Homo sapiens: one gene and its partner. Each later gene encodes a partner of the first gene's protein in a complex. Each region holds a gene or a part of one and is shown on either strand. Other genes may lie near its edges. A codon is read from its position in the direction of its gene.

What was found.
Region 2: the proteins of EDNRA (region 1) and EDN1 are in contact, whole or in part, in a cryo-EM structure (PDB 8HCQ), measured with the Homo sapiens proteins. Residues at the interface, in NP_001948.1 of Homo sapiens: Tyr68, Gln72, Thr73, Lys74, Tyr129, Asp133, Ile136, Asn137, Lys140, Leu141, Gly144, Arg145, Trp146, Gln165, Lys166, Val169, Glu220, Phe224, Val227, Phe229, Tyr231, His236, Lys237, Thr238, Cys239, Met240, Leu241, Asn242, Gln252 (codon at 3,575), Lys255 (codon at 3,584); in NP_001403492.1 of Homo sapiens: Cys53, Ser54, Leu58, Asp60, Lys61, Glu62, Cys63, Val64, Tyr65, Phe66, Cys67, His68, Leu69, Asp70, Ile71, Ile72, Trp73.

The regions. Positions count from the first base shown.
Region 1 is NC_000004.12:147,532,309-147,540,875, forward strand, and holds part of EDNRA (endothelin-1 receptor isoform a precursor), read left to right. Parts: intron 1-197; coding exon 198-396; intron 397-3,568; coding exon 3,569-3,721; intron 3,722-7,344; exon of another isoform or gene 7,345-7,508; coding exon 7,509-7,642; intron 7,643-8,068; coding exon 8,069-8,177; intron 8,178-8,567. UniProt on the Homo sapiens protein: Receptor for endothelin-1. Mediates its action by association with G proteins that activate a phosphatidylinositol-calcium second messenger system. The rank order of binding affinities for ET-A is: ET1 > ET2 >> ET3.
Region 2 is NC_000006.12:12,292,446-12,298,346, reverse strand, and holds the end of EDN1 (endothelin-1 isoform 1 preproprotein), read right to left. Parts: coding exon 5,838-5,901; intron 4,407-5,837; coding exon 4,251-4,406; intron 4,087-4,250; coding exon 3,943-4,086; intron 2,386-3,942; coding exon 2,280-2,385; 3' UTR 1,153-2,279; downstream 1-1,152. UniProt on the Homo sapiens protein: Endothelins are endothelium-derived vasoconstrictor peptides. Probable ligand for G-protein coupled receptors EDNRA and EDNRB which activates PTK2B, BCAR1, BCAR3 and, GTPases RAP1 and RHOA cascade in glomerular mesangial cells.

The DNA.
Region 1 (8,567 bases):
GAGCGAGATTTTGCCTCAAAAAAAAAAAAAAAAAAAAAAAAACCCACTTGGTTTTCATACCAAGACTCAGAAAATTCCTAAAAAGACAATTACTGGTATTGGCAATGAGGAGGAACTTCCCAGCACTTACAATTTTTGTTTAATTGAAATACATTTAAAATTTCCTAACAACTTGGTTCCATTACCCTTTTTTTCAGGTACAGAGCAGTTGCCTCCTGGAGTCGTGTTCAGGGAATTGGGATTCCTTTGGTAACTGCCATTGAAATTGTCTCCATCTGGATCCTGTCCTTTATCCTGGCCATTCCTGAAGCGATTGGCTTCGTCATGGTACCCTTTGAATATAGGGGTGAACAGCATAAAACCTGTATGCTCAATGCCACATCAAAATTCATGGAGGTACTAAACGTTTAAAAGGAATTAACTGGGGAAGGGAGGAGGTCCTCCGTTAGACTTCACCATCTTGAGACTTGATGACATCGCCACAATGTCAAGTGTGGTTTCTTCTGTCAAATATTCCTCAGTTGCATGAAAAGTAGATGTTAAACCTGTGTCTAGATTCTTGAATAGAACAGTTATGCTGGCTTTCACTCTTGTATTATACCACAATGGTAGACATATCTGTTATTCTGCACCAAACCACTAAGAATACCAAAGCAAATTTACTAAGAGGGACTAGATGTGTGTGTGTGTGTGTGTATGTGTGTGTGTGTGTGTGTGTATATATATATATACATATGCTATTTGTTTTTATAATAATGAATACAACACAACAATTTCCATCTGGAAGACGTGCTGATGTTTATCTTATGTCACTTGGGGAGAAGCACATTTCTCACATTCTTTAAAGATGGATTTACTAATTCAAAGTAGAGAGTAGTACTTACATGTACTTATATTAGTACGGTTTCTATGTCTAATATACAAATAATATAAAATTGTAGAACTTCTTAAAATAATATTTTGGTTTAACAAATTCAGTTGTTGGTTTTTTTAGTACACCTGACCATATTAATGTTTTTCTGAAAAGCTTAATCACATGACTGTTTTGGGAAACCTATTTAAAATGCATCTTTTCTTTGCAAAACTAGTTACATGTGGACTGAGGAGGAAAACCAAAAGGATAACTATTTCTCTTAAATCAGTATAATTTAGTGCTTTGATGTAAGTTTCATGTAGCTCACATTCCACATGTAATTATTTACAGACATCTCAAGGTATGCTTTCCCAACTTGGAAAATTCACAGAATTCGTGGTTTTACAGTTGACCAGTTATCCTGCTTGGAAATTCTTGTTTTAAAATTAAAAGTGCTCATGAAAACTGCCAAACTAACAACTTAAAATTGAAGTTTCTTACTGGGTTAGTCTTCAAAGTGAAAAACAAAGTAGACAGTAGGAGATTGTCAGAATTTGGGCTGTGTGAATAAGCAATCTAGATATTCCAGATGCAAACATTAGAGAAAAGAGGTTCACTATAAGAAGGAGCTTACTAATCCTTACAGCCAGACAAAATGAAATGGGCTGTTTCATAAAGACTGTCTCCTATCTAGACGTGTTCAAGTAAAGGGTAGCTACCCTTCAGGCATGGGTGGGCTAGACGGTTGCAGTAAAGGGTATGAGTTGAACAGATAATTTTTTAGAGTTCATTCCAAGTCTGAAGTCCTGTTCTCTTTTTCTAAATTTATTTCCCCTATTTTTTCCATTCTTGCTCTTCAACTTTACCCTAGACTGATGGTAGGCCCCTCTCTACCCATGTTGATGACATCAGTTCCAAAGAGATGCATTACCCATTTCTCTGTGGGCCTTTGCCATGGAGGGGGCAGGGGACTCCATTCAGCCCTCTCAAGGGTCAGCCTCTAGACCCTCTGCAGCTGTTTCTGCATCATTTATACCCAGCCAGCAAATGCACCCGGAAAAAGAGGATACAAAAGAAGGGAGAATGGGTGCTCAAAGGAGTGTTCGTGTTGCACTTCAAAAAAGAGAGAGAGAGTGCTTCTGACTTTTTTTAAGTTCAGGACTGAAATCTTTCTACAGTGTGTTGGGAACAGGGAAATGTTTGTGTAAGCAGTTTAGAATAAACCAACTCCTTTGGGAGTTTGCACTTAACCTGAGGATAGAATTCAGGGATCTGTGAACTTGGTTGGAAAAGAAACAACATGTTTATTTTCACTAACTTCTAACTGAATTTATTATTTCCTTCTATTATGAATGTACCCAACAAATCACCATAGTGTTTACCAGTATCATGACTTTTTCAGTAATAAAAATAGCAGACATTTTCATACGATATAACACTTGTATAATCTCAAAATATTATTTATGCTCTTCAGAACTTCAACACTTCAACAGTTCGGTAGTTATTAGAACCATCACTAGGTTTGTTATTTGTGAATAAACACAATATTACTATATCTAAATTTAATTTCTAATATTTTGATAGCTGTGCTTTAATGTAATTGGTTTCCATTGCAATCTTATGTATTTTATTTTATGCATGTAAAAGTATTATTCTCAGAAGGGATTATAGTCTTTACCAGACTTCCAAAAGGGTCTGTGGCATAAAAATAGTCAAGAACTCCTCCCCCAAATTTTTTGTCTTTAGGAACCATTTTTAGATTATTTTAATAGCCATGTTATAAATGCAGCCTTCTTAGCCTCTTTCTATATTCAGAAACTGTCCCATTTTTTACAGAGCAACATGATTATTTTTTACTGTGGGAACTGCATTGTCCTTAGTAAATTAACAATCTGAAGAAGCACTATAAGGAAAGAAAAAGCATTTCGTCCCAAGTTGGTGATTAATTTTGTGGGAAGAAGAATTTAGATATCATTTTTCATTTTCCATTTTTATAGGGTATTAAGTTTTCTTCTTTAAGCAGAAGTAAAACCGAATAATCTCGGTATTTATAAATCCTGCCCAGTTAGATAATACCAGATATGCTTCAGTTGAGATATGCTGCCTCAATAGTTTCCAGGTGGTAAGTATTAAAGGAGGGAGAAGAGTATAGCTATTGAAGTTCAAAGCGGCTGGCTTTAAGGTCACATAGCAGGCATACCAGGCAGAGGGTTAACCCCTATTAACCAAAGCTACACAGATAAGCCATTCGTAACCTTCACCGTTTCAGGTTAAATACACTTTCACCACAATAGTCAAAAGTAAAGCAGGCGCTAACAAAATTTTGAGGTTCATCCAGAAATAAAGATAAACATGTATATTCTTTTGTCTCAAAATCATGTTTTATGAGCTTTAGAAGGACATTATTTTTATTGATTAGGGCTCTTCCGTTGTGTAGTTGAAACCTTCAATCTATGAAAAGTATCAAGTATCCTTGTCAAGATAATTTTTGTAAGTGCAGTTTCTTTATGTGCTGTTTAAAGCCAGGATAATTTCTGAAGCTTCCAACTGAATTGAGTTTTGAGCCCCACTCCCAAACCCATCACTGCAACCAGAGAGCATGATTTTACAGATGTATCTGCAAGTTTAAAGACCTTAAAGCTACCAGAGGCACAGCATGGTTAATTGACATGACTCTGCTCCTCCTTTTCTCTTTTTTTTTTTTTCACTTTGAAGTTCTACCAAGATGTAAAGGACTGGTGGCTCTTCGGGTTCTATTTCTGTATGCCCTTGGTGTGCACTGCGATCTTCTACACCCTCATGACTTGTGAGATGTTGAACAGAAGGAATGGCAGCTTGAGAATTGCCCTCAGTGAACATCTTAAGCAGGTAAATCCCATAACATCATGAAAATCTGGCCAGGACTGGTTAGTCCTTGACAGCAGCAGGCCTGCAAATACCATCTTTAGTAGAATTAGCCTGATTTCCTAAAATAAAAATACTATCCTGTAACTGTTTTCTTTATAGTAATAGTGTTAGAAATTTCTTTTGTAAAATGGGAAACCTGCTTGTAAAACAAGTGGTCCTGAAGGCTGGGCCCAAATAGAGAAGAACTATCCCTCTATTTTGCCAAGAGTGTACTGAGCATGTGTGTATGTGAGTTCGTGCATTCAATTGGGCTTGAAACTGTACCAGGACACAAAAAAGCATGTAACTTTCTCCCCATGCAGATTTACAGTCTTGTTGTAGAAATAAAATATGCATGCAAAACAACTGGAATATAGAACCACAGGTGTGGTAAAAGTAGCCTGTGCTATGGAAAGCCAGGAAGGGTATGAGATAGAGTCATGGGGAAGCTGTTCATGGATGAGGGGGATTGAACCAGACCTTGGAGGATAAGTGGGATTTGATGGGGAAGAAGTTGACAGAGAGCATTTCAGGTGGAAGAACAGGAGTCTAGTTAGAACGTGGAATAGGAACCATGCATTTGGGGAATGGGAAAAAGGAGATGAACCTCTCTAGAGCAATGTCTAATGTGAGACTTATGCTAGGAAATGGGATCATGTACATTAGAAGAGGTAAAGTGTTGGAGGACCCAAAGTTCTAGAAGGAATTTGAACATGTCAATAGGAGGCTAATGTTGGTCCCTCCTGGGTGAAATTAGAACAGATAAAGCTGTGGGCTTTCAAGGGCAAAACTAGACTCATACTTGGCTCTCTGACCTTGGGCAAATTGCTTAATCTCTCTGAACTTCTAGTTTCTCATAATATGTATGTAATAATACATCATGGGGATTACCTGAGACATATAAGGTGCCTAATAGTACCCAGCTCCTAGTAGGTATTAAGCAAATGTTAATTTACATTAATTCTAAGAGGAAACCTAGGACTTCAGGTAAGTTCCCTGTTGCAACAGAAAAGTATATAATGGTGGCCAACTACACCAAAAGTTAATGTGAGTTGTTGATGGAGTCTGTAAATCTGTCCTATATAATTACCATGTGCAAGCATAGTTCCTCATCAGCAACTCTTCAACTACTATACTGATTTTTCTGAGCTTCAGCTTTTCATCTGTAAATTGGGCATAATATATGAATCAATAGTATTATGAGGATCAAAAGGATGAATGTGTATGCATGTACTTTATAAAATCTAACATGCCATACAAATGGTAGCTATTATCTTTCATTGACATTTAGCAAGAAGATTACATTGAGAAACCTTAGTATGACTTTGTTCAGGCATGAAAGTTTCAAATACTCCAATTGCTTAATATGTTTACAATTATTTCCTCTCATTCTTGGAATGGAGGTAGTTAGTATGGGTTTGTGAAAAACAGTGTTTTAAAATATGGATTTTTGCATTCGCACCATGATTGAGCCTGTTTAAGCTATGAGTGGTATTTGCTGTGGAAATAATTAAATAGTTAATTATTTAATTTTGGAATAATATTAATTATTTAATTGTGGAAAGAAATAATTGTCATATGCTGCTTCATGTTTACACAGCATTTTTTAAGTTTTTAAAGTGCATTTCCATTTCCATGTCTTTTTCTTATTTGATTCCTCCAAGCACCCTCTGAGATCAGTAGGATATATATTCTTTATTATACAGGTGATTTAGAGGTTTGCTCAACCAAATGGAGATTAGAACCCAAGATTTTGTCCTCATGCAGTTAACGTTCCTTTTGGTGCCACTCAAATCTGTAGCAAATCCTAAGTACAGAAGAGCAAGTGTGGCTGAAAGTCCTGCAGATGGGACTGCGGGAGAAACAGCATAGAGCACAAAACCTTGCCATCTTGACTAATACTCTGTGGGGCTCATAGTTTTGCTTCTTGCTTGGTTGTCTCTAATTTCTCCTCATCATAATGATGACAGTTTTATCAAGTAGGGGTTGTGTTCGGATGCTGGGAACACAAAACCCAAAATAACTGTTAGTTGACCAAGAAGGAGTTTATCTTTCTCCCATAGCAAAAAGTTCAGACATCAAGATTTAGTGGTCAAGCCAAGTTAGAGGCCAGGTATCTACTGTTTTGCTGATCTTTGCTTCAGTCTCAGGAGACTGTAGCAGCAGCTCTACTTTTATATCTGATTTCCAAGCAGCAAGAGGGGAAGAACAGAAAACAACCCGTCATGGGTGTGCATCAAAAGAGTGTCCCTATACTTCTCAGTAGCTCTTCCGGAAACCCATGCAATGGTTTCTATTTCATCTAACGGGTCAAAACCCTGCCAAGTGGCCATGTAGATAATTAGGCCAGGTTCCCCAGCTGCCTTAACAAATCAAGACCAGAGTGATGGTAAGGAAGACAGGAGAATGGATATTGGTTAAGCAAATATCAGACTATCATGGCAGTGTACTAATACTGCTTTTAAAAGCGTTATCCTCTTTGAGTATGCACTCAGGAAAGGTAACCTCTCCCCTAATACACTGCTTTTCTATTTTTCTGGGCACACTGTCTTTCTGGACACACAAAATGACCCTTTTAAAAAGAGCCCCCATTCCTGAAGATTTGAATATTTTATTTCTTCCCTCAGTCATTACTCCGGAGCCATATCCCAGCTAGCCCAATAACTATGAGAGGTTAAAGAACTCCCAGTTCCTTTAGCTAGAGTAGCGAGTTATGAAAACTGCCCCAGAATATTTTGAATGGCTCAGCCAATCATGTGAGTTTATTGTAGGCTTCCCGGACTTAATGTTATATGTTTCAGGTTGAGCCAGCATTACCCTTCCAGACCCTGTTTTTAATCAGTTTTATTTTGACATTAACTGATCCCAGTTACAGACAAGTTGCATTTTGTGTTCCTAGTCAGGCTTCTAAATGCATGCAATATAATACTCAAATAATGCACACCAATGAATGGTTGCAGATAATTCCTAATTTATAGATTTTCTGATCCTGAGCAGACTGAAAGGCATGCAAACCTTCCATGAAGTCCGTCCAAGGTCAGCATGTTTCAGATTTTCTAGTCATCACTGCTGATAATCCTTTACCCTCATCCTTCTGCTTGCAAACAACATATAATATTTTTATATGTCATTAAGAAACTACATGTCATTAAGAAAAGAATTTAAAGAGCAAAAAATCCCAATAATAGCTATGTTCAAGATCAGGAAAAGGAAAAAACATAGTGCTATGACTTTTCCTTTTCTACTCCCCACTCCTATTTTGTTTTCTCCAGGTCTTTGTTGATTTGTCCATGCAATATCATGTGATGTTCAGTCTCCTTGCCTTCCATGCCATCATTAATGCTAATTAGTTACCTGTTATTAAGAGTCATTAGCTAACCCTTTCCCCCATGCAGTCACACTCCACCCCACTACACACACACACAGGCAGACTCAGCCACCTACACACACACAGCTGCAGACTCAGCTGGCTCACCTCCAGCCAGTTTCCACCTCTCTCCTGGCATATAACCTCCGTCCTGGCCCTAATAACCAACCTGAGGCCCCCATCCTTCCTGGAAGCTGCCCAGAAGCATCATTAGCAATTCCTTCGTTAGAACACTGACCTTAGAATCTTGAAGAGGTAGAGGCAGTGTAAGCCAGGCTGTTCTCCTGGCTCTTCTTTGAATTATTCTTTCTCTGGTGTCTGCTACTTCTTGGTACTGTAGTTCTTGCATCTAGTATAAAAACACTAAATTTGTTGTCCTATTTTTTTCTCACTTTCCTTTAGCGTCGAGAAGTGGCAAAAACAGTTTTCTGCTTGGTTGTAATTTTTGCTCTTTGCTGGTTCCCTCTTCATTTAAGCCGTATATTGAAGAAAACTGTGTATAACGAGATGGACAAGAACCGATGTGAATTACTTAGGTATGATCCTGTGTACTCGCTAGAAAATTGGAGTTTCTCAGATTTTCATATTTATAATACTTTTACAAAACCAGCTACTCTACATGCCCGTTAGCCCTGAAAATTAAAACTGCAAAGTTGATTTTTTTCTTTAGCTGACATAGCCTATAACTGATCCCAAAATGTGTGCAAGCCACATCTGTTATCTTGCCCCTCCCCTCCTGAGGCTGTGCATAAGGGTTTGAGCTAACCAACTAGTGATGTATCTGTAACTGTCCTGCAAAACTGAAACTGCCGTTTAAACAAGCACTTTTTACAAAATTCTAACTGCCACCCATACGAAATGGCTTCTGGGCAAGAAAAATGCTTATTCTAGGAAGAAATGCTAGTGAGCAGATTTTAAAACAATATATTCTAATTATTCTACACCATTTTCTTTTGCTCTAGTTTCTTACTGCTCATGGATTACATCGGTATTAACTTGGCAACCATGAATTCATGTATAAACCCCATAGCTCTGTATTTTGTGAGCAAGAAATTTAAAAATTGTTTCCAGGTAAGATGATTTTTCAAGTATTTTTTAAAGACAACAAAATGAGTATATTAAACAGTCAACAGACACAGCCAATTCCAGTTGTAATATTACTTTGATCAGCTATACTACTTTTTAGCAGTGAAGTGAAAATCATGTTTTATTACCCAGAAAGAGAGTCAGATTGTCGGCATAACAGAAAAGCAGTTCCTATTTAGACAACCACATACAAAGAGGTTAAAATCAAAAGGACTAAATCACATGCCAGTTTAGAACCCTCCTTTAGAGAGAAATGTTTCAATGTATGCTCCAGGCCACAGAGAGTACATAAGACCTATTCATACCTTACTTTGTCTTAGACTTGAACCAAAGTCTTGACAAAATATAAGCTCTATTGTTAAGAAAGCGCTCACT
Region 2 (5,901 bases), on another chromosome or scaffold:
GAAACTCCCCTCAACTCCCTTGTTTCATAGATGAGAAAACTCACGATAGAAGGAAATTGAATCGTTTGCTCAAGATTAAATACTGGCCAAGTTCAGACCAAGCACCTTGTCAACATGGGCAAAACTTCAAAATTTTCTTCAGAGTCACGCACTGAGAAACAGTTTATGGATAAAGTAAGCTTTATAAACAATTCCCCAAAGACATTGGACTGTGCCTTAAAGAGAAAAATGAGGATCAATGAGGACGGAGACTCTGCACAGGACATTGATTACGCATGCCTGAAGACTGTTATTTGAAATCCTTCTGATGTGTCACTGTTAGGACGACAGTGATCACTACATGCTAATATTTGTTAAATGCCAGGAATTCCTTCAGACACTATTAGAGAAGGGCAAGGAAGATTCTCGAGGGCTAATCAAGCTCTTAGAGAATTCAGTTAGTAGTGACCATTTGCAATACTGCAATTGCAATACTGTGCTCTCCAGTGAGCTGACAAGGCCAGCCAAGGCAAAGTGGAGAGGAAGTGGTGCTTTGTGGCAGAGGACCTAGAATCAGTACCTGGTGTCTCTACCTCCATGGGCACACGGCCAGTCCTAGGCTATCACGAAGAAGCAATGGTACTCAATGTTCCTTAAGAAACAACATCCTTAATGTGAGAAAATAAAAAGCCATTGGAAACCTCTACTTGCTCTGAGCAGGCCATTTTCTAAAAGCAACTTTGGTATATAACTTTGTATAATTAGGTATGTTTTGGGGGGTTGTCTTGCCATTACTTCCTTCAGTCCATTAATATGGATAAAGCATCTCTCACCACACCATCAGCTTAAACTGTTGAATCCTGCCTAATAGCCTGAGCCAAGTTAATGGATGAAGTCCCTGGAGAATTTTTCAGGTGAAGGAGAAGCAGGAGGCTGCTACCCAAGAGAAGACAGAGGTGTTAAAGCTGCTTTTTTGTTTTGTGTTTTTACCTCAATGCAGTATAAAATCAACATTTAAGATACAGATAAAATTCTTTATATAATTAGCTTAGACCGTAATATCCTTCTAATTGTCACTTTTCTATGAAACCGTCTTTAACCATTTATTTGCCTTTATGGTACTTAATCACGTTGGCCCACTCCTTACAAATTTCAGTAATGATTCCAAATCAGTACAGTAAGGAAAAAAATATTTATTTTCTAAAGTCATTACCTTGACAGGCAAAACAAAGCATGTTCTCAATTTCATTTAGAAATACATATTTTAAAAATACATAGACCAATATGGCCTGCCCAAACAGATATTTAACATGGTAAATATAAGGAATAAATTGTTTGAATATAAATATCTATAAAAAAATAAGTACATCAAAATTCAATCCAACCTCTTTCATTAGCCGGTTATATAAAGGAAAATAATTTTACTGCTTTAAAGCGTAACAAACACTTACTTTTCAATATATTTCATAAACAACCCTATACCATTGTGTCTCCAAAAATCAAGGACAGGGAATCTCCTGATTTAATGATCTTTTTTTTCTTATGGATCAGAGCTAGTAGATTACCATGAAAATATTATATCTACTGCTGACACATTAGACCAGACTTCTACGAGGCTAGGATTTAGTATGGGGGATGGAGGAAGGGGCAGCAGGGGTGGGAAGAGTTTGGGGAGGCAATAATTAAATGTGGGAAATACTTCTGCCAGAGTGCAATATAGGTGAGGTAGACTCATATTCATGAAACATATCCTGATTTATGGTAGTAACAGTTTCATTCAGTTTTGCATTTTACAAATTTAAACAAAAGTCTTTCTTTTTTTTTTCTTTACTTGCATGTTTGTCTTTTGAGTGTGTTTTCAATTTGTGCATTCCTTAGAAAATCTTTGTGTGGACTTTGGAGTTTCTCCCTGAAATGTGCCAGGCGCCTGAGTCAGACACAAACACTCCCTTAGGACCTTCGTCAGAAACTCCACCCCTGTGTGGAATCTCCTTCCTCTCTCTCTCTCCGGAGGATGCCACCCGAATTCGAATGTGACTGTGTGTTTCTGCTGAGAGGTCCATTGTCATCCCCAGATGAAAGAAGAGACCAAAGCAGTTACCACTGATGGAAGCCAGTGAAGATGGTTGGGGGAACTCCTTAACCTTTCTTGGAATGTTTTGAACGAGGACGCTGGTCCTTTGCCAGTCAGGAACCAGCAGAGGATGCTCCTGCTCTGATCCCAGCCAGGGTGGAGAGTGCAGAGTCGGCCACAGGGCTCTCCGTGGAGGCTATGGCTTCAGACAGGCCCCGAAGGTCTGTCACCAATGTGCTCGGTTGTGGGTCACATAACGCTCTCTGGAGGGCTTGCCTTTCAGCTTGGGATCATGAAAAGATGATTTGACGCTGTTTCTCATGGTCTCCGACCTAATAAAGCAAGATAAGAGAAAACAAATGTTATTTTAAAAAAATCACCCTTTGGCAAAAGAAACATGTAAAATTAGAATCTGGCACAAACAAAACCTGAATCTGGTTGTGAACTTTCACCACCCGCCGCAACTCTTTGATAAAACCTCAAGTGATATCTATTACCATTGTAAAAATAAAGCCTGCCCCTATGCTTAGAATGGGAGCGAGGGGTCATATGGTCAAGTCTAAGGGGAAGTGGGCAGTAAATACAGGTTTTAAATAAACTAGAGTTGTTCTGGTTTCTTCCGTAGCCCCATCCCAACCTTCATCACTATGTGACCCTGCCTTGAGGAACTCAGCATAGGTTTTGAATAGTTATGGCCATCTTAATAAATTGACGGTGACTTAGTTGAAAAGAGAGAAAAAGAAAAGAAGCATACAGTAGGCCCAGAGCAAATACTTTATGGCAATTATTTTTAAAAAGATTTTTTTTTTTTGCAGGCCTAATGTTTTACAGGAGAAATACAGAGGGAAGAACTGTAATGTTGATTTAATAGTTGGCATAATAAAAACCCATAAAAAATTCCAGGTTAGTTCAGAAACTGATCTCGTGGGGAGCATTACTGGCCTGCGACCATAAATATGGATACTCTCATAAGCAGGTGTGAAGAAACCGATAGCTGAGGCTGCCCCACAAATCAGTAGTAAATAACTCAGAAGTAGTTCATGACTGCCTGGCCTGAGCTCAGAACACTTTAATCATAGAACTTCTTGCCACTGGATTTCTAAGAGAAGTTTCCATAGACCATGATAGAAAAATGCAGAACATGTGGTAGATCAGAGAGTAGGTTTCCTCCTTTGAGCTTGTGAATTCCAAAAAGTTTAGGATTTGGAAGGGTTATCACCAAAGAGCAGCTCAGAGCAACTCTATGATGTTGCCTAATCCAGATCCCTTCTCTGTCCCAGCACATGACTGACCAGGAAAAGAGAGAGCTTTTTGGAATGACATTGGCTCTGCACCAAACACATTTCCCTATTTAAAAAAAAAAAAAAAAAAAAGACCATAAACCTGAAAAACAGCATGTTCTAAATTCTACCAACCCTATCTAATGACTTTATTTTTCCTTTGGCCATCTGAATAACTGCAACTTATTGAAGAATTTGATTATCCATGACACTTTGATTCTTTTTCTAAATGTCCGCTCCCCAAAATGATTTTCGATTTCTCAGGGAAAGTGGTAAATACATTGACTCAGAGAGGCAAAGGCTGTATATAACCCAATGACAAAGGCATCTCTGGATATATTTTGGTTGGGAAATCTACCTGTAGATGAAATGGTATGTGCTAAAAGTACAGAGGACATCGGTTTGCATTCCAGAGCTTCATGGAAATATTTAAGAGGGATTCTTTTGCTCCTTTTAATCTATAGGATGCATAGATCTCCTCTGCTACTGTTTTCTAAGTCTTTCACCTGCCCGGGTAAGAAGGGCTGGAGGAACAGGCTGCTGGCATCACTGACTGGGGCTAGTTGTTCTTGTGAACCTCTTACCTAATTTTTCTTCCTTCCCTCTTACCTGGTTTGTCTTAGGTGTTCCTCTGAACTTCTTCTGATTTTTCTTCCTCTCACTAACTGCTGATAAATACACTTTTTCCCAAGCTTGGAACAGTCTTTTCCTTTCTTATGATTATTCCAGTCTTTCTCCATAATGTCTTCAGCCCTGTTAAAATACACAAGGAAAAACATTTCAGCAATGTTATATTCAGCTTTACCCTGACTTTCAATGTCTCTGTTAGTCTCTCTAAAACAGGAAGGCAGTACCATGATAGGAAGGAGTTCAGGAGGCTGTTAAACTGATTGAAAAGCAAAGGTGTTTCTGCTCACCTGAGTTCTTTTCCTGCTTGGCAAAAATTCCAGCACTTCTTGTCTTTTTGGCTAGCACATTGGCATCTATTTTCACGGTCTGTTGCCTTTGTGGGAAGTAAATTCTCCAAGGCTCTCTTGGACCTAGGGCTTCCAAGTCCATACGGAACAACGTGCCTATTATCCAAAGAGAGAAAGAAACTATATTAGTGTAATTAATAGTCTTTAAAATGACACATGGACACACCTATTCCACTGGGCACACAAGGAGCTCATCACATAGCACTTGGGAGCATCATTTCAGAGGGTAAAGTGTAACAACAGCCAGGAACACCTGTGCATCAATGGCCCTGACTGTATGTATCCAGGCAGGAGAAAACAAGTTTTTCTAATTCAGTGGAATTCCATTTCAACTCTTCACAAAGTTCAGTTTCTTCTTGACACAAGCAACATTGCTTTTTTGTCAAAAATTAGGACATCTCTGCTTGGCATCTGCTTTATATTTTCTTCCTTTTCTAATGGTCTATTTAGTTAACTATTTGTGGGTACACAGTGGGAAGAGGTTTCAATGCAAAACCATGACTCACAGGATTTTTAAAACTTATTTTCAACTCAAACCACGGAGGATACTGCTAAAAGTGCCACCGTCACCCCACCGACCCCAGTGGTTGGGGGAGGAGGAGGCACATGTTCACACATTTCTCCTGCCAGTCGGTGGTACCATATGGTTGTGGAAGGACTCATAGCCAGAGGGCTCTCCAATAATTTCCAATGTGTCCATTTTCATTCTCATCTAAGAAATAAAGTCCTCCCTTTGGAAGTATCACCTTAGTAATTATTAGGCTCCTTGTGGTTTTTGGTGTGGTTTGATATTGTTTGGATTTTGGTCCTCCTTTGTCATAACGGTACATTGTATGCATAGTAAATGTGTGCTTGTTTATGACTGCTTCCGACAGATGATGAACTAGTGTCCAGGGCAGAAGGAGGAAATCTGCTTTTCTTCTCTGTAGGTGAAAGAGAAGCCTATGGACAGTATTTCTATTTCAGTTCTGAAATGGGCATTTCTAAAGGGAAAATATAGCAGCAAAGGAAATCCGGGCTCCAGTTCTAGCTCTGCTACAAACTCACTCCTGCACAAATGGCTTCAACACTTTGAGCCTAGGTTTTTCTGTAAGTAAAATTAAGTGATTCTAACCCTCTATATCATCACTTCTGCCTCTCAGTCTCCACCCTCCCATGAGAAGCACAGGTTGCACTAACCCACATCTGACCTCGGCAATTATTCCCGAAACCCCATCAGATGCCACTGTGAGAGTGTCCCCCTGAGGCCCTCTCACTGAAAGTTCCTCATTTGAAACGTGCAGTGGCCTCCTGCTTGTCCCATCATGAGTAGCCTGAGCTACGGGGCCTCAGAAGACCCTCCCCTTGGTTGCTAAGAACGAAGCTGTCGTTATTTTCAGGAATAGAGGGAAACTGTCCCCACTGAGGCACTTGGATGGTGTTAGAAGGACTACCTTCAGAGTCCCTAGAAAAGAAACTCTAAAACTGGGCTCCAGTGGAGCCAGCGCTAATGAATGACTAGGGTTACAATGCCCTCTAGAGACTTACTCGGGAGTGTTGACCCAAATGATGTCCAGGTGGCAGAAGTAGACACACTCTTTATCCATCAGGG